Regions from separate parts of the Homo sapiens genome. Here regions 1, 2 and 3 are each reported to be linked to region 4. Evidence: microRNA targets listed by miRTarBase, many of them from high-throughput screens and not tested one by one. Region 4 holds a microRNA gene; each other region holds the end of a gene's coding sequence.

The links. The annotated mature microRNA hsa-miR-548ar-5p reads AAAAGUAAUUGCAGUUUUUGC and lies in region 4 at 4,993-5,013, shown strand. An mRNA with a match to its seed (bases 2 to 7 or 8) in the 3' UTR can be bound and repressed. Matches are read on the target gene's strand: a 7mer-m8 pairs with bases 2 to 8, a 7mer-A1 pairs with bases 2 to 7 and ends in A, and an 8mer does both.
Region 1: the mRNA of CCDC80 is a reported target of hsa-miR-548ar-5p. Seed matches in the 3' UTR shown: 7mer-A1 at 5,197-5,203, 7mer-m8 at 3,542-3,548, 7mer-m8 at 3,309-3,315 and 7mer-m8 at 1,120-1,126.
Region 2: miRTarBase lists GPR27 as a target of hsa-miR-548ar-5p. Seed matches in the 3' UTR shown: 7mer-m8 at 1,332-1,338.
Region 3: miRTarBase lists PAFAH1B2 as a target of hsa-miR-548ar-5p. Seed matches in the 3' UTR shown: 7mer-A1 at 2,970-2,976 and 8mer at 3,509-3,516.

What each region holds. Positions count from the first base shown.
Region 1 is chr3:112,599,251-112,606,497 of GRCh38, forward strand. It overlaps CCDC80 (coiled-coil domain containing 80), which reads right to left. Exons shown (of 8, transcript NM_199511.3): 8 at 1-6,513. The coding sequence ends at 6,167. Among named protein-coding and RNA genes, the nearest start is that of CCDC80, 38 kb to the right of the region's middle. RefSeq lists an enhancer at 4,638-4,807.
Region 2 is chr3:71,754,517-71,761,763 of GRCh38, forward strand. It overlaps GPR27 (G protein-coupled receptor 27), which reads left to right. Exons shown (of 1, transcript NM_018971.3): 1 at 1-1,980. The coding sequence ends at 661. It also overlaps a transcript of EIF4E3 not described here. Among named protein-coding and RNA genes, the nearest start is that of GPR27, 4.3 kb to the left of the region's middle.
Region 3 is chr11:117,167,147-117,174,146 of GRCh38, forward strand. It overlaps PAFAH1B2 (platelet activating factor acetylhydrolase 1b catalytic subunit 2), which reads left to right. Exons shown (of 6, transcript NM_002572.4): 6 at 275-3,899. The coding sequence ends at 553. Among named protein-coding and RNA genes, the nearest start is that of SIDT2, 8.1 kb to the right of the region's middle.
Region 4 is chr13:114,239,513-114,246,512 of GRCh38, forward strand. MIR548AR (microRNA 548ar) reads left to right here and starts at 4,993; the gene lies at 4,993-5,049. It overlaps CDC16 (cell division cycle 16), which reads left to right. Exons shown (of 18, transcript NM_001078645.3): 6 at 2,609-2,768; 7 at 3,745-3,836; 8 at 4,344-4,477; 9 at 5,378-5,457; 10 at 6,488-6,537.

The DNA.
Region 1 (7,247 bases), not on the chromosome of region 4:
TTTCATTGATTTCTGTGACAGCTGGCCCTTTGCCCCTCATCACCAAATCTTAACTCTTTGGACTTTAATAATGTGCAAAATTAAGAGGAAGTCTGGCATCGGGAGCTTTACACAACTCAGAGAGAACTGAGGAAAGTAGTTAGCATGTTAACTGTGCCTCACCTTGACCTGAAGTGAAGAGCACTCACCAAGCCACAACCTGCTATCTGCACACCCCACACCATGAGGTAAAGGACAGCCAAGGAAGAGAAAGGAAAGAAAAGCAATCCGGCAGGGAGATCAGGGAGCGAAACGAACAGAGAAACGAACAGAGGTTTTTTCCAAGGGCCTTCTATTTTTCTACAATCTCCACACATTCAGTACTGAGACACATTAAGAAGGGCCCACTGAGGCCATCATTCACCCTACTCTCGGGCTGCTTCCATCCTCCAGGCTTCTAGAAGTTGAGAAAGTATGAGCTTCATTGTTAATTATATTACAGAAAATGGGACCAGCTGGGTTGCACCCACTCCCCTGTGTCTGGACCTCCTGCCTATGTAGCAGAAAAGGATCTTTCTGCTGAATTAATATTCACCTCAGAGCCCTGGGAGATGTCTGATGAAAAGTAGTTTTTGAAGAGTCTTGTGACAACCAGCAATTTCGGCAAAGCTATGTCCTCAAGAGTCTTCCAGATTTCCCCAACTCTACAGAATGCTTTTCTTTTTAAATACCATAATCCCATAATCTTTCTCAAAAATTATAAAACTGTATTTTATTTTTCTCATTTATTTGGGAGTTTGGTAAGAAACGTTTGGGAAGAAATGCTTTTATGGAGAAACTACTCAGATTTGAAACTACCTAGTTTATACTACCAGAAGACAGAGATTCAGGTTAGCTAGTTTGCTAATCCTCACAGTTTCAGAGATATGCCTTGTATTTTTCCAGATTATAGGCTTTGAGGACATTCACCAATAGCATCCTCCTCTGAATGTATTTTGGTCCTTTTGCTAAGCTATGTCTTATTTTATAGTCCTCCAAATGATGATCTATGACTTCTCTGCCTGCTCATTAGAGGAAGAAAAGCTCAGATGCATTGCTAACTATTATTTCAATGCCAGTGGAACTGGAGAAATGCTTGAAAAAGTAATCTCAGGTTGTAAAAAAGAACTATCTTTTTTTGGTTGCAGGAGCTAGAACCCTATTATTCTGAGAGTAAATTTTCTATTATTCCTATCTAATTCATTTTCTTGGGAGATGAAACTCCCTCTTTTTTTTGGTGGGGAGACAGGGTCTCACTTTGTCACCCAGGATGATGATGATGGAGTGCTGTGGCACGATCACGGCACACTGAAGCCTCGACCTCCTAGGCTCAAGCGATTCTCTCACTTCAGCCTCCTGAATAGCTGGGACCACAGACACACACCACCTTACCCAGCTAATTTTTTGTATTTTTTTGTAGAGACAGGGTTTTGCCGTGTTGCCCAGGCTGGTCTCGAAGTCCTGGGCTCAAGCGACCCGCTCACCTTGGCCTCCCAAAGTGCTGGGATTACAGGTGTGAGCCCCTCACTGCTCCTGGCTCCCTCATTATTATATTTCCTGAAGTTGACATGATTTGGGTCCTTTACTTAGAAATTGTCATCACACAATTTCAGAAAGGTAAAGAAATCCATTTTTATTGGCAACTTTGGGCTATGCTTCATCCTGGCAAAAATTTAAAAGCAGTACACTTCGACGTGGCTCACTTTCCTGCACACCTCAGGCAGCTTGTACAGACTATCCAAGAAAAAATGAGGAGGAAAGTGCTCCATCAAGGAAGAGGGATGAGATGGGAGCATAATTCACACACTAAGAACTGAGTTCTAAAGTCACTTGAGCTTTCTGGAGCTCAGTTACCTGTAAAACAAGGAAGAATGAATGGTCTTTATGGAAAATGAATGGCAGAATAAGTGATTTGTCAAGTTCATTGAACTATAAATTCCATTTTTACTGTCATTTATTTATAACAAAGTTCAGATATAAAGAAAAATCTGAACATACAGTAGGCACAGATAAACCTATAGCAAATATTCACATGTGGTTTGAATGCATTTATTAATCTCTGTACTTATTAGAATTAATAATAATACTAAAATGATTTGGAGAATTAATGATTAATAACAGTGGAAAATAGCCTTCCCATTATTGTTAGAGGATGGTGCCATCATGATGCTAAATGCCTATCTGAGGGGAAGCTCATAAATATTACTTGACAATATTACTTGATAAATATTTGTTGAAAAAAGAAATGTAGTAAAGAAGCAAGGATGGCTGGGCATGGTGGAGCATGGCTGTGGTCCCAGCTAACTTGGGATGCTGAGGTGGGAGGATTGTTTGAGGGAAGCTGAGTTTGCAGTGAGCCAAGATTGCACTACTGCACTGCAGCCTGGGTGACAGAGTGAGACCCTCTCCAAAAAAAGAAAAAAAAAAAGAGAAAAAAAAGAAGCAGCAGCAACGAAAGGAGGGAGGAAGGGAGAAAGTTTACTTTGATATGCCATATGATTGAAACAAATGCTCTTTTTTCAAAGACAAGGATTATACTCCTTTGCATTCCAGCTACTTTGGTCCATTGTAACTTGGTAACCTTTGCCTTGAAAACAAAAAGAATCCCTGGATATAATCTCCTTCCTTGTAATTTTTTTTATAAGATGCCAGTATGGTAATAGGTCCATTAGCAAGTAAGTACAGGCACATCTTATTTTATTATACTTCTCAGATACTGCATTTTTTACAAATTGAAGGTTTGTGGCAACCCTGCATCAAGGAAGTCTGTTGACATCATTTTTGCAATAGTATGTACTCACTTTATGTCTCTGTGTCACATTTTGGTAATTCTTGCCATATTTCACACTGTTTCATTATTATCTCTGTTATTAAAATCTGTAGTCAACGATCTTTGATGTTGCTATTATAATTACTGGGGGCACCATGAACCACACTTATATAACACAGTAAACTTAATAAATGTGTGTATGTTCTGATTGCTCCAACAACCAACCTTTCTCCAATCTTTCTCCTTCTTCTCAGGCCTCCTTAGTCCCTGAGACACAATATTGAAAGTAGATCAATTAATAACCCTAAAATAGCCTCCAGGTATTTCAAGTGAGAGGAAGTTGCAATCTTTCACTTTAAATCAAAAGCTAGAAATGAATAAGCTTAGTGAGGAAGGTGTGTCAAAAGCTGAGACAGGCTGAAAGCTAAGCCTCTTATGCCAAACAACCAAGTTGTAAATGCAAAGGAAAAGTTCTTGAAGGAAATTAAAAGTGCTACTTTGTGAATGCATGAATGATAAAAAAGTAAAACAGCCTTACTGCTGATATGGAGAAACTTTGAGTCATCTGAATAGAAGATCAAGCCAGCCACAAAATTCCCTTAAGCCAAAGCCTAGTTCAGAGCAAGGCCCTAACTCTCTTCAATTCTATGAAAGCTAAAGGGAGGTGAGGAAGCTTCAGAAAAAAAGTTTGAAGGTAGCAGAGTCTGGTTCATGAGTTTGAAGAAAAGAAGCCTTGTGCATCCATAAAAGTGCAAAGTAAAGCAGCAAATGTTGATGTAGAAGCTGCAGTAAGTTATCCAGAAGATCTAGTTAAGATAATTAATGAAAGTGGCTACACTAAACAATAGATTTTCAAAAGAGATGAAACAGCCTTATATTGGAAGAAGATGCCATCTCAGACTTACGTATCTAGAGAGGAGTAGTCAATGCCTCACTTCAAAGCTTCAACCAACAGGCTTACTCCTTGTTAGAAGTTAACGCAGCTGGTGATTTTAAGTTGAAATCAATGCTCATTTACCATTTCCCCAAATCCTACGACTTTTCAGAATTATGCTAAATCTAATCTGCCTGTGCTCTATAAATGGAGCAACAAAGCCTGAATGACAGCATGTCTATGGACAGCATGGTTTACTGGACATTTTAAGCTCACTTTTTGAGTCTTACTGCTCAGAAAAAAAAAGAATCTTTTAAAAATATTGCTGTTCGGGCCGGGCGCAGTGGCTCATGCCTGTAATCCCAGCACTTTGGGAGGCCGAGGCCAAAGTCAGTAGTTCGAGACCACCCTGACTAACATGGTGAAACCCCATCTCTACTAAAAATACAAAAATAAGCTGGGTGTAGTGGTGGGCGCCTGTAAATCCAGCTACTCAGGGGTCTGAGGCAGGAGAATCACTTGAACCCCGGAGGCAGAGGTTGCAGTGAGCCAAGATCGCACCACTGCACTCCAGCCTGGGTGACAGAGCGAGACTCCATCTCGAAAAAAATATATATATATATAATATATATTATATATTTTATATATGTATATAAAATATATATATAAATGATCAGTTCCAGACCACTATAATATATATATATATAGCTGTTCACTGACAATATACCCAGTCACCCAAGAACTTGGATAGAGATATACAAGGAGATTAATATTTTCGTGCCTGCTAACACAATACCTATTGTGCAGCACAGGAATCAAGGAGTCATTTGCACTTTTCGTAAGACTATAACTGTCACAGATTGTGATCCCGCTAATGGATCTGGGCAAAGCAAATTAAAAACCTGGAAAGGATTCACCATTCTAGATGCTGTTAAGAACATCGTGATTCATGGGAGAAGGTCAAAATAGGAAGATCAATGAGTTCGGAAACTGATTCCATCCCTCATGGATGATTTTAAGAGGCCCAAGACTTCATTGGAGGAAGCTCTGCTATAGACATAGTGGAAATAGCAAGAGAACTGGAATTAGAAGTGGAGCCTGAAGATGTGACTGAATTGCTGCAATCTCATTACAAAAGTTTAATAGATGAAGACTTGCTTCTTATGAATGAACGAAGAAAGTGATTTCTTGAGATGGAATCTACTCGCGTAAGTTGCTATGTACATTATTGAAATGACAACAAAGGATTTACAACATTACATAAATTTCATTAATAAAGCAGCAACAGGGTTTGAGAGGATTGGCTCCAATTTCAAAAGAAGTTGTACTACTGGTAAAATGCTATCATACAGCATCACATGCTGCAGAGAAATCTTTCATGAAGAAAAAGTCAATCGAAGTGGCAAACTTCATTGCTGTCTTATTTTAAGAAATTGCCACCATCACCCCCAACCTTCAGTAACCACCACCCTGATCATTCAGCAGCCATCAACATCAATGCAAAAAGATTATGATCATTAGCAATTTTTAGCAATAAAGTATTTTTAAAATAAAACATGTACATTTTTTGGACATAAAGCTATTATACACTTAATAGACTACTAAAGAGTGTAAACATAACTTTTATATGCACTGAGAAACCAAAAATTTTGTGTGACTCACTTTATTGCGATATCCACTTTATTATGGTGGTCTGGAACTGATCCTGTAATATCTCCATGGTATGCCTGTGCTGTACAGGGGGTAAAGTGTGAGGGGTCAAGAATTTTCATGCCAGAAATTCCATAGCAGCCTACTAGAACTCTGGAAGTATCGCCTTTGGCTGCAGTGCCAGATTCTGGTGAGGATTTCCTGGACCCCGATTTATATCTGAAAAAACACTAAAAATAACAGAAGCAGGGCAGGAAGTGGCTATGATAACAAAGCTGGGCTTGGTACTTTCTCTGGCTTTTGTGGCCAATATTACTGGACTCCCGTGGTATCAAGTTTCATAAAAGAAACTCATACAAAGCAGAGATATCTTAATTATTTTCAGACTGGCATTTCAAAAAGTGTCAATTTAAGTAAGTATTATAAGTTATTTGTTCTTTGTTTTATCTTTTCAGATGTTTCTTGAAAACATTGTGGTGTGATCTTTAACAGAGTTTTCACTTACCAATTAATACAAAAAATAAGAAAAAGCTTTAAATACATATTTTATAAAATTTTATATGCCAAATAAGGTCCTTCATATAAGAAAAGGAAAATAATATCAATTTTCAGTACTATTATTTAGCACTAGAGCCCCTCCAGTTAGAAAAACAATTCTTTTAAATGTCTTTATGATTTGAGGTTTCAATAATAACTCATGAATAGGTGAAAGTTTGCTATTTATTTAGTCTTAGAAAAACACTGAAAGAAAAAGGCAGGAAATGTAGTACGCAGTGTGGAAGAATGGAGCTGGCCACATGTAGTTTTAGCAGCTGCAGAGGAAACTGGCTGAGTCTAAGGTTACATATTTCTGCTCAGTAAGGGTATCCATGGTGATAACTCTCATGATGACGGTAGTCATCCTGGTAACCATCCTGGTATCCTTGGTGGTAACTATGGTAACCATAGCCTGCATACTCATCTTCTGGGCAGCGCATCCCCAGTGACTGCTGAATCGCCATTTCCTGTCTCCGAAGTTGCATCGAATCAATTAAATCGTACACAATCACCATGGACCACATTGGGGAAGGATACCAGGATTTGACATTTCCGTCTTTTCCGACTAGAAGCATGGAGAAGTACTCCGGGCTCACTTGAAAATAGTTACGAATGTCTTTCACCAAATGGGCTGGTACGTCTTCTCGCTCAACAACAGAGCTCCCTAGAATAACATTGGAATAGTTATTGTTAGTAGATTAAACAGTCAGAGCCCATGAAAACATTAAAGTGTGAGGAAATTACTGTGAGAATAGGGAGGACCCATGAGCCTCTTCTCTTTAGTTCAAAATCTAATTAAAGAAGTTTGCTGGGGCTTTTTCTACTAGAAATTAAATGTCCCTGCTTTCTGCAACACGATTAGGGTCAAACTTTGGGGCACTCGATGTGTCTTTTGTAGGAATGTTACAAAGTATAAAACCAATTCCTTAATTTAATCCTGGCAAGACTAATTTCTTTAAAATTTGTCACTAACAAGGATTATATAGTTTATCTTTCTAAGTTTATTTCCAATTAGCTTAGTTACTTCTCTGTAACTACAGCTTACCTTTTGACACATCTTAATGATAAAAAGCTTATTTCATTGTTAAAAGTGAAAATATCAATTCTGTTAAGATCTAGAGGAATATTTAAACTATTGTGAATAGTGAAAAGAATAGAGGGGAAGGAGAAAAGGAGCTGACACTTTCAAGTCTGCTGTGTCCGGCATTCTGCCAAGTATTTTACACACATTATTTAAAGAGCTTGGTCTTGGAAGAAAGGACTGGATTTGCTTTCTGAAAACTTCAGTCAAGAGTCTTTTTTTGTTTTGTTTTGTTTTGTTTTGTTTTGTTTTGTTTTGTTTTTGAGATGGAGTCTTGCTCTGTCACCCAGGCTGGAGTGCAGTGGTGTGATCTCGGC
Region 2 (7,247 bases), not on the chromosome of region 4:
CCCGCCAGTGCTGGACGGCGGTGGCGACGACGAGGACGCGCCGTGCGCCCTGGAGCAGCGGCCCGACGGCGCCCCCGGCGCGCTGGGCTTCCTGCTGCTGCTGGCCGTGGTGGTGGGCGCCACGCACCTCGTCTACCTCCGCCTGCTCTTCTTCATCCACGACCGCCGCAAGATGCGGCCCGCGCGCCTGGTGCCCGCCGTCAGCCACGACTGGACCTTCCACGGCCCGGGCGCCACCGGCCAGGCGGCCGCCAACTGGACGGCGGGCTTCGGCCGCGGGCCCACGCCGCCCGCGCTTGTGGGCATCCGGCCCGCAGGGCCGGGCCGCGGCGCGCGCCGCCTCCTCGTGCTGGAAGAATTCAAGACGGAGAAGAGGCTGTGCAAGATGTTCTACGCCGTCACGCTGCTCTTCCTGCTCCTCTGGGGGCCCTACGTCGTGGCCAGCTACCTGCGGGTCCTGGTGCGGCCCGGCGCCGTCCCCCAGGCCTACCTGACGGCCTCCGTGTGGCTGACCTTCGCGCAGGCCGGCATCAACCCCGTCGTGTGCTTCCTCTTCAACAGGGAGCTGAGGGACTGCTTCAGGGCCCAGTTCCCCTGCTGCCAGAGCCCCCGGACCACCCAGGCGACCCATCCCTGCGACCTGAAAGGCATTGGTTTATGAGGGAGGCCCCGCCACATAGACCCCCAACCCAGCCTTTCCCTTTGGCTCGGACGGTGACGTTGTATCTTTTCCTTCTGGCCCCTGTTTAATTTTCTAAGCTGCCTTCAAAATGACTCGAAGTGGACAGACACTTGGATTGTACTGACTCCTTTGGGGGTGGGGTGGGTGAGGAGTAGGATGCTCAGCCCACTCCAGCTCCGCACATTCGTCCTCCTAACTCGACTTTCTTCCTGACAATAGGCCCTGCAGTCTTTTTGTAGCGGTACTGACGTCTTTTATTCCATGTGTGGTTCCTTTTTTTCTTTTTCTATAAAGGCTGTACTAATTTTCTTCATGCAACGTTTCCTAAAGACCATGGCCAGTTTTCTACAGAAGCTATTTTTGACAACCTCAAGTGGCATTACATTTTGCAGTGAAGTAGAGGAACCTAGGGGGACTTCTTCACAAGTTAGATTTCTTGAGGATCTTCTGTTGGAAGCAGGAGAAAGTGGGGGGTGGGGGGAAGTTGTCCGAAATGCCCTCTGAATTGCCGGCTGCAGGGTCCTTGTGCTGCGCTGGTTCTTTGAAAGTCTCAGTGTTGATATTGAACTTAAAGAGCAGAGATGGAGATCAGTAGCAAGGCAGTCATTTTTTTAAAGCAGTAAGTAACAAGTAAGATTTGGTTCCCGGTTTACTTTCTGCTGCTAAAAACCACGTCAGTGACAACTGCTCTCTGTATTATAGCAATCTTGAATGGAAACATTTCTGTCAAGTTGTAAGTTTTAAAAGAGTAAAGTGTTTTGGTTAGTAATGATGTGGAGAAAAATACAGTATTGCATGTGTTCGTGTGTATAGATTGTGGTTCGAGGATTGGGAGGGCTCTGAGAAGCAGAGTACTACATCAAAATTGTTTTAAGTATTTTTTGCCAATAAAAAATTAATTTTATGGAAATGGCTTGTGCTTTGAGAAGCCCAGTTTTATTCTGTCTTATGAAACTAATTTCCACTTTGAAAATTGTTCTTCTGTTGTTTATGGTATAAATGAATGGAATATAATGATATCCTCCTTCTAGGAAACAAAGCATTTCCTTAAAATGTTTGCTAGGTTAAGCTGTGCTGTTCTACTGATGGTTGTTTTAAATTAATAATGAGAACTATAATTTAAATAATATTTCTTTGTTAGACATTATAATGTTAAACTGAAAGACTAAATTCTGCAAGTACTATATAATATTTTTGGCTTATAATGCTACATTTTTATTAATGTACCTTCCGTTTTGAGGATTTATATCTGTATTTCTCTTTGCATTATACAAATATACCAGTATTTTCATTCTGGAGTGGTTGTTTTGTTGTGGTGGTGGTGGTGTTTGAGGCTGTAATAATACATGCGTCGAAGTATGTTACATGCCTCTAAGTATGTTATGTAAGGATAACATGCTCTATGATCCTTTTAGCACGTGTTCTTCAGTTACAGGTTTCATAGTTTGACCATCAGCATATCCAAGAAAAGTGGAGGCTTAATTTAAAATGCAAGATAAAATCTGCGAAACTTTTCTTTAAAGGGAAGAAGCAGTAGACATATATACGGCTTTAAAACTGTTTTTTTATTTGGATGACAACATTTCAATGACTATTCGTTAAATGACATAAAAAAGCTTTTAAGTAAACATATCAAACTCAAGTACAAGCGATCATTTTGATAAAAGTACTAGGTAAAAGTGGGGGTGGTAGATTATATTGAAATTTAGCTGAGTATAATATAAACTATTAAATGTTCAGTCCAATGGGAATAAGTTATAAAAAGAGTGTGGCCAATTTAATTGATCTCTGGTAAATAGGCTGCATGATTTTATTTTGTTGTGGAAGTTAATCAGTCTGTGAAGACAGTCTCACACTTGGAAAATATGAGACAGTTACCCTATTTCTCCCCACATCATGAATCCAGGTTGGCCTCAATCATCCAAGGGCCACTGATCGGAAACCTCAGCCAACCCCAAGATAGAGGAGCCCAGAAGTACCTCTCTCCTCATCTAACCCTCCACCTGCCCAAGTGATCTCAGTTCCAAATAGAGGTCGAACCAGTCTACGATGGCTCATGCCTGTAACCCCAGAACTTTGGGAGGCCGAGGCAGGAGAATTGCTTGAGACCAGGAGTTTGAGGCCAGCCTAAGCAACATAGCGAGACCATGTCTCTACAAAAAATCAAAAAATTAGCTGGGTGTGGTAATGTGCACCTGTGGTCACAGCTACTGGGGAGGCTGAGGTGAGAGGATGGCTTAAGCCCATGAGGTCAAGGCTGCAGTGAGCCATGACTGTGCCATGGCACTGTAGCCTGGATGACAGAGCTCTCGAGACCCTGTCTCAAAAAAGCCCCCAAAACAGAGATCACCAAGTCTCTGTGATTTTCCCACCTGGCATGGCACAGGAACCAGCCCATCATGGCTGACTCCTGAGCCACTCCAGCTTTGGGCAGCAGCTCAGCTGCACCAGAGGTGACGTGTTGGCCTGACATAGCCTTGAATTCAAGGGATATTTTGTCATATGAGAATTCATAAGCCAGAGGTTCTCAAATTCTAACATTCATACAAATTAAGTGTCTGTGTGATCCAGAGTCTTATGAGGACATGTTGAGTTGGGTCCTGGGGAAAAGCATTTCAACAGGTTCCTCAGGTGGTTGGAGACAGACCTCCAGGACTTCGTTCAGACATGATTTACTTCAGACATGATGCGTTCAAACTTGGCTACCTGGGTTTTTTATTTTTATGTTTTAAAGTTCTGATTAGATGGGGGAAGGCAAGATTTCTAGTGAGTGTGCAGGTGAGAGTAGCAAGAAATAACAGCCAACTAAAGGAAACGAGAACCAAAAGAGCCAGAGAAACAAGCTATGTAGCAGAAAGTGGGGAGGTGCAAAGGGCCACCCCAACAGCTTTTAGGATTGGTGAATCTATTAACATGTACTTTGATAGTTAATTACATTAATCAAAAATTATAAAAAAAAAAAAAAGGTTAGTTGTGTCCACAGTACTCTACTTATTGTACCAGCACAGGCACCATGTATTTAGGGAAGATTTCATTAAAATTGCTCATTTTATTTATTTGGGAAGTTAATTTAGCACAACTTCCCCACCCTCCCACGCAGTTGTCACTATACTTGAAGCAATGTAGGCTTCCCGTACATAGATCTTTGTCTGTATGTTCTAGCATGGAATTGCTGGGTCAAAAGAAGCATTTTTAGGACTTTTGATATCTTGTCAAATAGTTTTGTAGAAGGACCATATGTCTATATGTCTGTTTAAATGTACAGTACACCTGACATATTCTTTTTTTTTCTTTTGAGACAGAGTCTCGCTCTGTTGCCCAGCTTGGATTGCAGTGGCGTGATCTCAGCTCACTGCAACCTCCACCTTTGGGTTCAAGTAGCTGGGATTACAGCTCAGCCTCCCAAGTAGCTGGGATTACAGGCGCCTGCCACCAGGCCCAACTAATTTTTGTATTTTTAGCAGAGACAGGGTTTCGCTATGTCGGCCAGGCTGGTCTCTAACTGTTGGCCTCAAGTGGTTTACCAGCCTTGGCCTCCCAAAGTGCTGAGATTACAGGTGTGACACATTCATTTTTTAAATGAAATATTTTAAGCAAAGTGGGGAAGCATGTAACAAATCAGTAACAACAGTGATAATCTCTGTGTCCACTACTCAGCCTTACCAAATGCCATATTGGTTTCTACTCTTCCTTTTCTCTTTTCCCTTCCTTCCTTCTTTCTTCCTTCCTTCCCTCCCTCCCTTTTTTCTCTTTCTTTTTTAAAAAGAAATAAAACGGCAAAATTATTTCTCCGAAGTCTTTGTTCTCACCATCAGCCCTCTACATTCTCAAATGCCCTGCTCCCTAACAGGTGACAGGGTGCCAAGTCCTAGGGCTGACTCAGGGTTATTGTTTTGCAGGTGGATCACTGGGTTGATGAGATAGAGTCCACCCTGTTTTCCCAAGGCCTACAGGATGGAGGAGAAACCTCTTTGTCTGCCACAGACCTTTCACAGTCAGGCCCTCTACCACCCTGGCCTCATCCTTCCCTTGTATTCTCATCTCTCCCTTCTTGGATTACTCTTATACCAGCTCTCCACTCTTCCCGGAAAGCCCATTCCCACCTTTCTGCCTGACAATTCCTCACCAACTCCTCTAGAGCAGGGGTGTAAATTCACAATATTTAACAACTGGAATGGCACAGGCATAACTAATCTATACCACTGTACCTCCAAGTTCTGGCTGAACATTGGATCTTGGATCCAGGTCCAAGGCTTCTGGAAACCCTTCTTGGCTCAGTCATGCCTCCTCTGGGCTCCCAGAGTGCATGGTTTACCTCCTTGAAGTCTGCACTCCTGCGTCTGGTGCATCCCATCAGCTGCTGCTCCCTCTCCAGTCTCACTTCCTCCCACTCTCTCCTCAGGCCGTGTGACATGCTTCAGGCACTCCTAGTTGCCAGCAGTGCCTGAACAGACCACGCCACGTCACACCACCATGCCTTTGCGTACAGTGTTCCTCATGGCCAAAGCCCTTGCTCCTTGTCCCCCCTCAACTGCCTCTTAAACTTTCAGACATAAAGAGATAACTAAACATAAAGAGTGAATTCCTAGCCTCTACAGAAAGAGGGTGATGGTCCTGGGGCAGGCCCTACAAGATTTTCAAGGCTCCAAACTAAGTCATTAGATCCGAGCACACAGCTGGCTAAGTGGCAGACTTATTGTCTTACTGGTATTTTAGGTTTTCTGTGTGCACCGAGGTGGCTGGGGTTATAAAATGCAGCTGACCCAAGATACTGTTCTTCAGATGTGCACCCTGTGTGGGCTGCCAAGACCACTGAACTTCAGGACCCTCTCTCCCTGAGGGGCAAGGGAGGCAATGGGAAACCACCTCCACCCATCCACATCCGAGTCCTATTAGCTGCTTCAGGAGTAAATATAAGTAAAAGCAAACTTAATCTGACGCCAAGGGGTTCTTTATGCTTCTCCCCCAGCTGGGACGAGACTTTTGAGGCCTAACTCAGCCCATAAAGAGAACTCTTTTTCCTTCCCTCTTTACTCCTTTTGGGGTGATAGGATGTGATGCTTGGAGCCACAACAGCCATCCTTCAACCATGAGGGGAGACACTGTCAAGACAGTGAAGATAGCAGAACAGAAAGATAAAAAGTGCAGGCACCCATTTTAACATTCTTGAGTTGCTTAATTAGATTAGCAACCTCCTATCTCTAGACTTCTGGTTTTGAAATTAAAACTACTTTTGTTTCAGCCATTAGTAGTCAGGAAGCTTGTTAGTTGGAGTGACAAGAAACTGCAACAATACTTGAAACTACTGCATCTCCTTGACCCCTTTGCTAGGTGTGCCTGATATTCTAGAGCTGCATCCACAATTTTTTTAAAAATTTGGCTTATTAATATTTTTCAACTCTCTGATTGTTCTGCCTGCTGCTGTTAAATTAACCTGGTTCTAGAAAAATGAGATATATTTGGCATGATTTCTTAAACTGAAATAAGTCCAGAAGATTAAAAAGATACCTATTACTAGGTCAGTTCTGTTTAATTGCACTTTATGATACTTTTTTTTTTTTTTTTTTTTTTGAGATGGAGTCTCACTCTTGTCGCTCAGGCTGGAATGCAATGGTGCGATTTTGGCTCACTGCAACCGTCGCCTCCCAGGTTCAAGCGATTCTCCTGCCTCAGCCTCCCGAGTAGCTGGGATTACAGGCACCTGTCATTATGCCCAGCTAATTTTTGTATTTTTAGTAGAGACGCGGTTTCACCATGTTGGCCAGGCTGGTCTCCAACTCCTGACCTCAGGTGATCCCGCCACAGCCTCCCAAAGTGCTGGGATTACAGGTGTGAGCCACCGCACTGGGCCTTTTTTTTTGTTTGTTTGTTTTTTTGGACAGAGTCTTGCTCTGCCGCCCGGGCTAGAGTACAGCGGCATGATCTTGGCTCGCTGCAAGCTCCACCCACTGAGCTTAATTGATGCTCCCACCTCAGCCTCCCAAGTTGCTGGGACTACAGGTGTGTGCCACCACTCCCGGCTAATTTTTGTATTTTTAGTATAGACAGGCTTGTCTTAAATTCCTGGCCTCAAATGATCTGCCTGCCTCAGCTTCCCAAAGTGCTGGAATTACAGGCATGAGCCACCATGCCTGGTCTATGATACCTTTTTGATCCACTCATGTTTATTCGTTTGTTTGTTTGTTTGTTTGTTTATTTGAGACGAGGTCTCACTCTGTCTCTGAGGCTAGAGTGCAGTGGCACCATCATAGCTCAATGCAGCCTCCAATTCCTGGACTCAAGTGATCCTCCTGCTTCAGCCTCCTGAGTAGCTGGGCCCACAGGCATGTGCTACCACTCCTGGATAATTAAAAAAATTTTTCTGGAGAGATGGTGTATCTGTTTCCCAGACTGGGCTAACTTCTGGCCTCAAGTGATCCTCCTGCTTTGATCTCCCAAAGTGCTAGGATTACAGGTGTGAGTCATCATACCTGGACCAAACTTTTTTGATATCATAAATCTAATTACAGGAATCTGGAAAACCACCTGAATAAATCCATCTAACCAATAGATATTGAAAGCTAAT
Region 3 (7,000 bases), not on the chromosome of region 4:
TCTAGGAAGAGATCTGGCTAAAGTATTTAGAGTAGTGGGCCAGAGGACAGGTCCTTGAAGAATACCAACAGTTAAGGGACAGGAGGAAGGGAACCCATGAAAAAACTAAGAAGAAATGGTTAGCTTTCATTCAAAACAGTATTTTCCAATGTTTCACAACTCAAAGGTGTAGAAAGTGCCAAATGGAGATGTTCCAGGAATATCTGAAGTTATAAATAATAAGTAGAGAAAAATAAGTGAATCTTCTAATTTAATGTTTTCCACTGTGCCCCAGGGTTTGTTACCTCGAGGTGAGAAACCCAATCCTTTGAGGCAAAAGAACGCCAAGGTGAACCAACTCCTCAAGGTTTCGCTGCCGAAGCTTGCCAACGTGCAGCTCCTGGATACCGACGGGGGTTTTGTGCACTCGGACGGTGCCATCTCCTGCCACGACATGTTTGATTTTCTGCATCTGACAGGAGGGGGCTATGCAAAGATCTGCAAACCCCTGCATGAACTGATCATGCAGTTGTTGGAGGAAACACCTGAGGAGAAACAAACCACCATTGCCTGACTGGCTCTTATCAGTGTTAATAGCATCTCAGCTTCCTCAGATCAGTTCTATCACTGGCACTACAGAATCCTTCTCTTTCTTAAGGCACTTTGCATTGTAGAATGTTCCTGGATGTTCATATCTAGTGTTTGAAGGGGAGGAGGGATTTAAACTGGTCCTGTACATAGAAGGTTTGTTTGACAGAGGAGAAAAATTAGCCAAGGAAGATTGTTGTTTAAATTCATTTGAAACCAGAAGGGGACTTTTTAGTTGTATGTGTAACACATTCATTGAATTATTATCACTGTTTTCTTGGGACAACATCAAGCCTAAATACTGAACAATATGAAGATTCTTTTCTTGGCCTTTCTGTGGATTATGTCATATATAATAATTATCAGAATCATTCTACTTGGCTTTAAAACATGTTTTCTCCAATTTTTTTAAGGTTCATAATTTAGCCTTTTGTTTTTATGTTGCTTAGATTCTTATGTATACTGAATATTTTATTAACATGTAGCATCAGGTTGAACATGCTTGTCATTGATATATGGAAGATGCTATAGTTAGAAGTGAATTTGTTCTGCTTTCTTAATCTTTTCCATGCTTAGCAGTGAAAAACAGGTTTTGCCCCAGTAGAGGGATTCTTTGGAGGGTATTATTTTTTATGCTGCTGAATATCATGTCTATAATAGACCCGTGCATGCAGCCTTTCCTCCTTATTCCCCTTCATGCCCCCCTTTCCCCTTCATTCCCCCCGCCACCCCGTTTTTTTTTTTTTTTTTTTTTTTTTGGTTCTTGTTGACATTACAAGCTTTTAACACATTTTTGACCTAGGAGCCCTGTTGCTGGAAGTATAGTCTCCAGCCAGTTACTCTCATGATAGTACTGCTATAAAACTCATTCTTGTGTGGTGTTCTGTGCTATAGATTCTGTGTATTGCTGTTCATATTCGGAGTTCTGGTTTTGTTTTTCCCTTAAAACCTGTTAACAGTTTTTTTTGGGGGTGGGGGGATTCAGAACTCTTGTTTCCCATTCCATAGCACCTGACATTATTTCAAGTTTTATAATATCTTAAGGTGTATATTTTATTTTTTTTATTGGCTTAGTTGTTTTTTGTTTTGTTTTGTTTGAGATGGAGTTTCACTGTTGCCCAGGCTGGGGTGCAATGGTGTGATCTTGGCTCACTGCAGCCTCCACCTCCCGAGTTCAAATGATTCTCCTGCCTCAGCTTCCTGAGTAGCTGGGATTACAGGTGCATGCCACCATGCCCGGCTAATTTTTATATTTTTATTAGAGACGGGATTTCGCCATGTTAACCAGGCTGGTCTCGAACTCCTGACCTCAGGTGATCTGCCCGCCTTGGCCTCCCAAAGTGCTGGGATTACAGGCATGAGCCACCGTGCCTGGCCTTATTGGCTTAGTTTTTAAATTATCCTCCAAAAATTTTGGGCCTTTTTCTGTGGGGAAACAAGTGAAGCTGCTCTTCAGCATAGACACTACCTTTATCCCATCATTTTAGTAAAAACTAGGTTTGTTTCACTTCTGAGGTGTCTTATTAATGTACTTCATCTGAGAATTTGTTGATCTTAATGTTCGAGCTATATAAGAACTGCCATTAAAAAAAATGGGATAATAGATGATTTTATCAGTATACCTGTGGAATATGTACAAACTGGATCTATAGATATTTTGAACTGGACCAGGTGGGTATTGAAGTAACCCATCAAAATATGCTCTGCAGTGATTCCGCTTAATGTTTAAATTCAGTAACGTACTTGAAAGGCAAATTTCAGTGCTTTTGTATGTTGGAGGAGGGCTTACTGATGCGTGCTAAGACCGATTTCTGATTGAGGGATGAACCTTGGGCTCATTTTTTTCTTGTGAAGTCTCTTTCTAGAAAATTTTTTGGTTTTGTTCTTTTTAAAAAATACATACTTTTTTGAATGTATCATGTCTTCATTAACAACAGAAAATCCACATGGTGTTTACTAAACTTGTTTACGACATTAAAAATTTCCTTTTTATTTTTAGTAGCCCAGGTTGAGTTTTTCACAAGAGATTTTTTTCTTAGCTGAGGTATAGTTGTATAGCAAGAAGAATTAAGCCAGATTTTTGTGTGTGGAAAGACAGTTTTCTATCCACGTCTTTTTCTGTTTGTCAGAAGGTGGGAGTATGGTCCAAATAAATCCATTAGGTTACTCCTGCAGCATGCGCTTTTAGCTTCTCTCTTGACTGAGGATCAAATATCCCTTTGTGAGCTGGCCCTCAGCTCCTTTGCTCATGTGTACAAACCTCAGATGTTACTACATTTTATATCTACCAGAGCTATTCAAGCAATAGTATTTGAACCACTAGCCTTTTAAATAAAATTCTGCCCCATTACTGATGTGCAGATATTGAGTTCACTTTCATTTTTTGCCAGATTTCTTTGCACTACTTTAGGTAAAAATAGTTAATCTATTTTTCTTTGACATCCTAGTTTGCGTCAGTGACAGAACTTACTGCTTAGTCTTTGTACTTTTTAAAAAATCTATAAATTTAATGCACTGTCCAAGTGAAATGTCCTAGTTGTCATTGTGATTAAGGGGCCAACTTTCCAGGCAGCTAGCAGAGATACTATTCTCTTCCTCTCCCAGCAAATTTGTATTCCTTCGCCCACGCATTCCTGCTATACTAGATGGCAGCCAGTGATGGAACTATAAAGATGTCTGTGGTCATATGTTGAATGTGGCAGCTTGAAGATGTACTGCCACGGGTGATCTAGGGCAGGCTGTCTTCCAGTCCATGTGTTCTCGGTCGCCGTAGACAGCGCTCTGGCTACCACCGTGAGGCTACTTGAACTGTCAGGGGCATCTGCCTAAACCAGAATCTTTTGTCAGAAACCTTAACCCAACAAAACAAATCTTGAGTAGCTCATGCCCGGCTCTTAGGAATTTTGTCTGTTTAAAAAAAAAAAAAAAAAAAAAGTCCAACTTACTTTATTTTATTTTTTTAACCTAGTCACTGTTTACAATTGTATGCTAAAGCCTGAAATATTGTCTGTGCTGTGGTGTATGAGCATTGCCAACTTTATATTTATTGCAGTGAAGAAGAAACTAAAAATATATGGAAATGAGGAGCATGTCCAAGCTCCTAAATCCGTGTGGGTGCATGTGGGAGAAGTGAGTTAGGGCCTCTTGAAAGGAGGCTTTTTGGAGAGGGGTCCCCCAGGTTTCTTGGTGTTCCTGCTTGGGGATCACTGCTGCTAGCTGACTGGACCTCCCCATTGGAAGTTTGTGATTTTGCTTTGGCAAAGTTTCATTGACTAGTAGAACTCATTCTGTTTTAGTGTATATTTCAATATAAATGTAAACATTTTGCTCAATTTGCTGGTGTCTTTCTGTCTCCTTTATCATAGTTTGGATTCTAATGAAAAAAAGGGATGGTTTTTCCCTGCCTTATCATAAGGAAATTGGATACTTAGATGATCCTGCTTCTTTACTGTGGAACTGAATGCACCAGGCTGACTCATCACTTACCTTCTCGGGCATGTAGATTGGTAGGGTGGGATGAGTAGGTATAAGGACCCCTCAGAAAGCACAACTGCCATCCTTGAAGTCTACTCTTTTCCATTAGATTGGAATAGTTTTGCAGATAGGTTAGTCTGGATTATAGGCTGTGGACCACCTCATCTGAACTGGGTGAATGTCATCAGTCAGTATAATACAGTGTTATTGGCCGGGCTCACGCCTGTAATCCCAGCTACTCAGGAGGCTGAGGTGGGAGAATTGCTTGAACCCAGGAGGCGGAGGTTACCGTGAGACGAGATTGCGCCATTGCACTCCAGCCTGGGCAACAGAGCGAGACTCTTGTCTCGGAAAAAAAAAAAAATACAGTGTTACTACAGCATAGAGGACATGAACCTTGAGCACGGACTCATTTATCACCCTTACGTCCCCAGGGTAAAGCAGCCGCCTCCAAATACTCTATCTCAGAGATAGTGAGACTAGAACAAGGGTCGGTTAACTGGTCGATCGGGACCTATCCTGATGACACACCAGCAACTACCAGGCCAGCAATATTACAGTGAGTTGGTATGCCGGTATGATGTTCCTTGGCAGCTAAAAGTTTCTGTGATCTTTGTATCATTTGCTTTATCACTGTTCACCTCAGTGGTATACTGTTGGATTAAAATGATTTGCTGCTTTAGGAGGAAAAATTTGGAGGTAAATTGAGACATTTTGTTTTTCTAGCTGCCCTTCCCCCCTCCCCAGTATCTCATCACACCAAGTTCCTCTCCACCCACACTCCTGGAGGCCTTTGTCAGCTGCTTGCAGGCCACACAGCAGCAGTGAAAGCAGCCTGGATCTTGAAGCTTTGCTTTACTGTATGTGGATTACCCCATGTGAACCTCTTAAATGGCCCAGAACAAGTGGAAGTGGTAGTAATGTGGAAGAAAGAAAAAGCTCCCTCACCAGCATCTGTACTTGAGGGGAAAACTGGACAAACCAACATGAGAATCTGTCCCCTAATTTATTTTCCAGCCATGGCAGAGATGAAATCTTAACCCAATGACATGTTTTTACATAGCTATAAAGCAAAGATCTTCAATGTTTTGCTAAACATATAATATTTGTGGCCTGATATTATGCTATGCCTTTTGCCTACTTGCTGGTTCATTCTAGCTTTATATATATATATATATATATATATATATATATATATATATATATATATATATATATTTTTTTTTTTTTTTTTTTTTTTTTACATTCTGGTCAAGCTTTGGCAGTATGCTTATAGTGGATTCATAACACATCAGTATACTGCAGCTTGCTTGTCAGCCACTGAGTTAAAAGATCAAGTCCAAGCCATTAAATGTAACATCTAACAGTCTCCATGACCTGGCCTCTTTAATTTGTAACCTTCCACCCTTTACTTTGAACTTTTCTGCCAAGAGCACTGAGCTTCCTTTATGTTTTTGCCCATAGTTGGGAGCCCCCTATCTGGAATATGCTCTTACCCCTTTGCTGGTCTAGCTCCTACTCTATTTTTATTTTTTGGAAACAGTCTCGCTTTGTTGCCCAGGCTGGAGTGCAGTGGTGCAATCTTGGTTTACTGCAATCTCTGCCTCCTGGATTCATGTAGTTCATGTGCCTCAGCCTACTGAGTAGCTGGAATTACAGGCGTGTACCACCACGCCTGGCTAGTTTTTGTGTTTTTAGTAGAGACAGGGTTCGCCATGTTTACCAGGCTGGTCTCGAATTCCTGGCCTCAGGCAATCGGCCCGCCTTAGCCTCCCAAAGTTCTGGGATAACAGGCATGAGCCACCGCGGACCCAGCCGCCTGTCTTCTGATTTCTAAGCCAAAGACCCAAGCTTTCTTGAAATAAGAGAGCTGGCTCATTTTTATCGGTGATCTTTGGAGGCAGAGATTTGAGACGGTCAAGTATTTATCTGCTTGTTTTCTGCAACCTGATGACCAGCCTTGTTTCCTGGAAAGCTCTGATGTTGGTTTCATCACGTGGCCAGAGGGAACCAGATGCAGGGCCTGAGTATATCACAGATATTTCCCAGTGTGAATGGTGAAAGCCCAGTTTTAGGAAATGGAAAGTGACTGACCTATCTCTAGGAGAAAGTACTGCCCACTTGGTCAGAGCTTATCTCGTTTGTCTCTCTTCCTGTTCTTTAGACAGTAGGATGGTGAATGCAGGGAAGCCTAGCTCCACTGTGAGTACTTAGGACAGTAGAGACCAAGTCCAGACAAGGCTCCCAAAAGGCTCAGAAAGCTCAAGTGGTTTGCCTAAAGCACACAATGCAGGGATTTCACTGTAGAACTTTTTTTTTCTTTTTTCTTTTTCTTTGAATGGATGAGAGGTTTTTATGTTGCCCAGGTTGGCCTCAAACACGTAGCCTCGCCTCCTTATGTGCCAGGGCAACAGGCCTGAGCCACCGCAGCTCCCAGTGACTGTAGAACTTTTTGACATCAAAGTCCGTCCTTTTTCCGTAATACCATGAAGCCATGTGACAGGTTTGAGACCTTCCCCAGTATGGCAGATTAAATCCTGTGTCTTTAACTGATTCCCAATCTAACATGCATCCAGTCTTTGCAGTCCTTGCAGGAAGAGAGATAACCAGACACAAGGGCAGCCCTGGGAAAGAACAGAACTTGTATGATGGAAAGAAGTGCTGAACTCTTGCTGGAGCTGCTTATGTCTGGGACAATTCTTTCTAAGCACCAAATGAAAAAACAGCCCTTTTTATAATCACAGTGAAAACAGAAAGCTTCAGGTTCATTTCCTTCAGAGGGGTTGGTTTTGAATCTTTTTTTTCTGGGTTAAAGTTATACCATTACATGATACTAAAATCTGTTTTGATTCTGTCTCCCACCCATAGGCATGGCTACTCCCTACCTCCCAGGTTCCTAAATAATTTGATTGGATTCAGCTAATCCATTTACTGTGATTCTTACAAAATCCTGCTCGAG
Region 4 (7,000 bases):
CTCAGTAACGGCGGCGAGAATTGCCCTCATTACGTGGCAGAAACACATTATCTTCTTTTACTTATTACTATATTAAAACAATTGTGGTTGCCAATTTATTTAATTTGCCCACCAAAACCAAAAAAGATTCTGAGACATTTCTGAGCCCTTAGTTGCAAGCTGTAATTGTATCCGCAGATGCCTGCATCCAAAATAGGCTGGCTTGAAACTTCCTTCTCATATTTGATGCCTTAAGCTACTCCCTAAAAGTGGAATAATTTTTCTTCTCCTTTCTGTGTTTCAGCAGTGTTTTGGACCTACACCAAGAAACTTTGATTAGCGTACATTGTTTCTTTCCAGGAAATGGTTTTGTGTTCTGTTTGCTTCAAAGTACATTGCTATGTAATTGTGTATATTTCAGTTTGTATACTTCATATCTCCATGAAATTGCACATTCCTTGCTGGCAGACATCATATAGTAACTTATTAAGTGACATTTACAGATCACTAATCTGGATTTAAAAAAAAAAATAAAAACTTATTGAGGTATAATTTATATGCCATGCAGTTCCCCCATTTAAACTGTATGGTTTGATTCCTTTTAGTGTATTCACAGAGCTTTGCAAACCTCACCATGGTCAATTTTAGAATATTTTTATTATTCAGAAAGAATCCCTGTAAGCCTTACCTGACCTACCAATTTCTCTTTCTTCCCACATCTTTTTTTTTTAAATTAAGACAGGGTCTTTGCTTTGTTGTCCAGGCTGGAGTGCAGTGGCACAATCACAGCTCACTGCAGCCTCAACCTCCCAAGCTCAAGTGATTCTCCCACCTCAGCCTCCCGAGTAGCTGGGACTACAGGCGCCCGCCACCATGCCCGGCTAATTTTTTGCTATTTTAGTAGAGACGGGGTTTCACCATGTTAGCCAGGATGGTCTCGATCTCCTGACCTCGTGGTTTGCCCACCTCGGCCTCCCAAAGTGCTGGGATTACAGGTGTGAGCCACTGTGCCCGGCACAGTTGGCTAAATTTTTTAAAAAATGTTTTGTAGAGACAGGGTCTCACTGTGTTGCCCAGGATGGTCTCAAACTCCTGGGCTCAAGTGATCCTCCTGCCTTAGTTTCCCAAAGTGTTGGGATTACAGTCATGAGCCACTGCACCTGGCCCATTTATTTATATTTTTGGTAGAAGTTTATTACTTGACTTTTCACCTTAGATAGTTATTTTTAAGCATAAAAGAATATTACACATTCTAGGTTTTTGTTTTTGTTTTTTTTTCTGGCCACTCATTAATGTATGTGTTGGGAAGCAGATTCTTCTGTTAAGAAATGCATTTATGAAAGTGTGTGGTACAGTCATTATTTTGGGACCTCTTATCCATTAACTTATTTGCTATGAAATGTGTGATTTATTTGCAACGCATTATTATTTATTTTGTGAAATTACATTTTTAAAAAACAACTCCTAGGATATTGCTTAGTTCGAAGACTCTCATAATTCATTATTTTTTCTAAAATTTTACTTTATGAATCTTCTTCATATCCTTAATGATACTAGCTGCCTGTTGCTGGATCATCTTTAAATTCAGTTATGTGTTCGAGGTCCAGAGTCTAGAATGTGCATCAGATTTCCACATCTTCGTGTTTATGGTAGTCGTGAGATGGCTGTTGAACGCCTTACTATGTGCTAGCACCACAGAGATGGTAGCATCTCTAGCCCTCACAGACTTCTATAAGTTAGATAGTAAAGAGTTCTATAAGTTAGATAGTGTTTTTATCTTTTTACAGATGAGGATAGGAAATGGAGGCCAAGAGAGGTTCAATCACTTGTCCGAGGTTACAAGTAATTGGCAGAGCTGGGGTTTGAACTCAGGTCTGTGCTGCCTCAGCAGGCCATTGTGCTGACTGCTGTGACCACTCTGCTGCATTGCTGCCAGTTTCTGCTCATTAAGATCCTTTTGAGGGGTGTCTGCCTATCACACTGTCAATCTTGGAGTTTTATACACATGCACACACACTCTGCCATCTCTAAATCATTGCACTGTTTTGGACAAAACAGGTAATGAACCTAGTAGCCGTGACATGTACTTTTGTTATAAAGATGTGTTGGAACAGAGCAGTTGAAGCCCAGGGAAGGTGAATTGAAGAAGCTTTGCTGTGCATTTTTTGTGTGTTTTTATTTATGCCTTGACAGTTGTGATTGACTAAATCCTTTTAAATGCAATAAAAACTTCTCAGCATTCAAATACACAATTCTCTATCAAAAGTTAAGTTTAAGGGCCAGGCATGGTTGCTCATGCCTGTAATCTCAGCACTTCGGGAGGCCAAAGTGGGAGGATCACTTGAGGCCAGGAGTTTGAGAGCAGCCTAGGCAACATAGCAAGATTGTCTGTACAAAAAATTTAAAAAATTAACTGTTTGTGGTATTGTGCACCTGTAATCCTAGCTACTCAGGAGGCTGAGGCAGGAGGGTCATTTGAGATCATAGGAGTTCAAGGCTGCAGTGAGCTATGATCGCACCACTGAACTCCAGCCTGGGAGACAGAGTGAGACTCTGCCTCTAAGGAGAAAAAAAAAAAGTTAAGTTTAAAAGTACTGACTTAATATGTGACTCATCATTTTTCCAACAGATAAAGAGTTCTATCTGTCTTCTACGCGGGAAAATCTATGATGCTCTAGATAACCGAACCCTGGCTACCTACAGCTACAAAGAAGCTTTGAAGCTTGATGTCTACTGTTTTGAAGCGTTCGATCTTTTAACATCACATCACATGCTGACAGCACAAGAAGGTTTGGAAACTCAGGCTTTTTTGTTTTATGTTTAGCAAAATTAATATTGTTTGGATTTTTTGCCTCTGAAATCTTCTAAGTCAACAACAGGCCACATACAGGTTTAAATAGACCTACTCACTTTCTTAATGTCTTCAAATGTAAAGCACGTTGCAGAATGCAGTATTGTACGGTGCCTTGTGCTGTCCGAATCTAGGGATTGTGATAGGAAGAGGCCATCTTTTTGAGAAGTGATTGAGATAGTATAAACCAGGATTTCAGTATCTCATGCAGTGATTCTCAACCGTGTTGCTCTTTACATCCTTGGGAAGACAGAGAAACATCCATGTCCAGTTCCCAACTCCAGAGCAGATGCTTTAAAGCTCCCAGGTGATCCTAATGTACCACAGGCACTGAGAATCAGTCCAAGTATGTTGGCAGTGGTGTGAGGTGCGTCAACAAGGGAAACAGAAAATAGAGTGGTTGGATTAATGGGATTCTAACATATTTTAGCCTAGTGCAGTGGTTCTCAACCAACCAGAGTGATTTTGCCGCCCCCTGCCCCGGGAACAGTTGGCAATGTCTGGAGATGTTGTTTGTCACAGCTTAGGGGCAGGGAGGGAGGTTGAGAGGTTGCTGCTGGTATCTAGTGGTTAGTGGCCAGAGGTCCTGCTTAGCACCTGCAGTACACAGGCTCCCCTGTTCCCAGCAGAGCAAGATCCACGCAGTCAGGAGTGCGGAGGCTGGTGGTTCTTAGGTGACAAGAGCCACCTGGGGACCTGCCTCAGCCCTGAAAGAGTAGCCTCCACCCACCAGATGATTCCCGTCTTCAGGCCTGGAGCCACTGTGTCAGCTTCTGTTGCACATTTTGATCTTATGTTCTCTTTTGAGTTTGATTTACTTAGACCAAGAACTGTAGAATCATATTTTTAGTTGTTGGCTTTTTCCCCTCTATAAATATTATGAGGATATTCTTTTTTTTCTCACCATTTTTAAGAAAAAGAACTTCTTGAATCACTACCCCTTAGCAAGCTGTGTAATGAAGAACAGGAATTGCTGCGTTTTCTATTTGAGAACAAATTGAAAAAAGTAAGTAAAACCAAAGAGTTAGCACTTGCTTTATGTAAATATCTTATTCCATAAAATTTGGCATCTAGTCTTATATTAAGTTTTCAAAATTAAAACTTTTTAAATTTAGCACATTTTTAAGAATAGAGCGTTTAAGATACATAAGATTCCAAAAAAAAAAAGCTTTCAAAAATACCTTTTTCCTCTGAAAGACTCCTTATACTAAAAGATTGAATTACCAAGTAAATGTAAATGGAATGGTGTTGCATGGAAATGAAGATTTTTTTGTTATGCTTCCTGAATGTTTACTTTGAGAAATACGTCCCGCTGTGGAATTCTGTTCTAAAATTGAGAAGGGAATTAAACTTACTGAGAGGAGTACTTATAAAACCTAAAGTTATAAGTTTTCAGAGGCTCTCACATTTGTTCTTGTAAATGTTTTAACCACTTGGGCCAAACACAAATTGAATCCACATTTTATTTTGTTTTTGCTCATTGAGTTTATGTTTACATTTCTATGTGTTTCAGTATAATAAGCCTAGTGAAACGGTCATCCCTGAATCTGTAGATGGCTTGCAAGAGAATCTGGATGTGGTAGTGTCTTTAGCTGAGAGACATTATTATAACTGTGATTTTAAAATGTGCTACAAGCTTACTTCTGTGTAAGTATATCCATCCATTTTTCTGTAGGAACATGGAGTTCACTCCATCTTACCTAGGTGATTCACGGACGTGCTCTCTGAATAATCTTGAACTAGATGATAATTTAAGTTATCTTTACCAATTGTAGAGCACTGAACAGGGTGCTGTCTTAAAAGAGCAATTTACAGACATGAATTTGTGCATATTTGTAGATTTATTACATTAACTTGGGAGGGATATACATGTTGCTCTTACTGATCTTGATAATTTGCAAGTTTGAAAATTCCATTTTGGCACATTGTTTTGTAAAATTTATTCTCAATTATGAGACTCACACTGTAGATACTAGGTGTTTAATATGCTGCACGCAGTAGCTAAGCCATCTCCCACATGTATCAGTTTTCCAGTGTACCTAATTTAAACTTTAGCTAAATGACATATGCTATTTTTTGTAGATCTTGGTTCGGTTTAAAATCCTTGAAATTACAAAAATTTTAATTGGCAAATACACATAACCTATTTATTAGTTTGGTGCAAAAGTAATTGCAGTTTTTGCTGTTGAACGTAGTGGTAAAACTGCAGTTATTTTTGCACCAACCTAATAGGATTTCCTGTTGGTTTTGATTCTTTTAAATAAGCGGCCTACTTATTTTATGTATTACAATTCTGTTGACTTAAAGTAAATGTATGTGATAATGTTTATTTTTATTCCTTTCAAATAAACCAGAATTTTTTCTTTCATTTGTAACTTAATTATGGCCTTAACTGAATCAACCTGAAGATAATGGAGTGAAGAAAGTGAAGTGTTACAACCCACAGCATCATATGTGATACCATAATGACTGTCTACACATAGCCGATCGTCGTGAGTGCTGTCACCTGCTGGTTTGGGGGTAGTAATGTGTCGCTTTAACTTTCAGAGTAATGGAGAAAGATCCTTTCCATGCAAGTTGTTTACCTGTACATATAGGGACGCTTGTAGAGCTGAATAAAGCCAATGGTAAGACTTTTTTTTAAATTAAAGTAATTCTTAGACATAAAACAAATCTTTTCTGTAACTTGAAATTTTGTCTCTGAAATTCTGGATAGTTGAGATTGCAGGTAACAACATAATGGAACCCTACTATAAAAGTAACAACTGGGGAGGAAATGTTTAGGAAAGTAGCAAATGGCCAATTTTGTTTTCCCATCAGAACAATTAGTTCTTTATCACTGCTTCCTACTACCTTTTCTCAAATATCATTTATGTTTCAAGGTTTGTTAGCTTTAAATTGTTGGGTGTCAGTTCTGCCTCCCCCCCCCTTTTTTTTTTTTGTAAATTCCACTGGAAATCTGATATGGTAAGAGTTGATAACTACTTAGAAATTGGAAAGGAGCAGATTGTTTGCTCATGTTTTCCGTATTTTTAACATTTGACATTTAGTTGTGTTTGGGGATGCATTTGTCCTTAAATTTTTCTAAACTGAATGGTGAGCTCTGTCAGGAAGGAAAACCCTCACCGAATCCCTGCTGCTCAGAGTGTGGTTCGTGGACCAGCAACATCGCATTTGTGGAAGCTGGTTGGAAATGCAGCATCTCCAGCTGCTCTGGTCTACTGAATCCAAGTCTGCATGCAGGAAACATCATCTTGAAATGCCAGGATTTACACATTTCTCAAGATTAAATAGTATCATTGATCTGATAAACTTGAAAGTTTGTTCAGCCAAATTGGTTGTGGGTGATTATGATGGTCCATAATGGGCCCTTGGTGTGACAGGCATGAGCTTCTAAGAGAGGTGAGGTGCTTTGCTGTATCCTCTGCAGTATTCGGGAAGTGCTGTCTTAGGGGGTGTCTGTTCCCACCTTGCCCACAGTGTGTCCTTCATCTAACTCTCCAGTTAGAGAGTTAATTTTTTATCTAGAAGGAAAGACAAGTATGAAATCATTGCTGTAAGAGCAGAATTATATGATTGTGAAGAGTTGTAATGAAATCATGTCTTAAATTACATGTGATACGAACAATTGTTCTTTTTCTGCTTTTTCCTGAACAGAACTTTTCTATCTTTCTCATAAACTGGTGGATTTATATCCTAGTAATCCTGTAAGTAATATAACTTTTAGTCTTAGTTTTTTTTTTTTTACCTGTACTTTAAGAAAATGCTTAACTCGTATTTAGACAATAGCTTAAGTTCAAGCAAATGATGTTTTATTAAAGTGTTGCAACAGAATCTCCTAGTGTTTATTGTACTTACAAAAGCAGCATTAACTTTTCAACCCATGAAGGTATTTTTTAATTATACCAAAGCAAAAAGGTTTTTAAACCCTTTTTTCTGATTATAGAAGTTATACATGCTTATTTTAAAATACTTAGCGTATAGCAATATAAAATACTGACCATGACAGTCACGCCTCCCTTTCCTAAGAAATGTGGATAATTGTTTGGCAGCTTTCTCACATTGCACATGTAAGACAACCTGTTGAATTGTGTACTGATTCCAAACTGTCATGGATCGGAATGGAGAACTAGGAATGGAAAATGGAATCAGGGACTGCGTCTTTAAGGA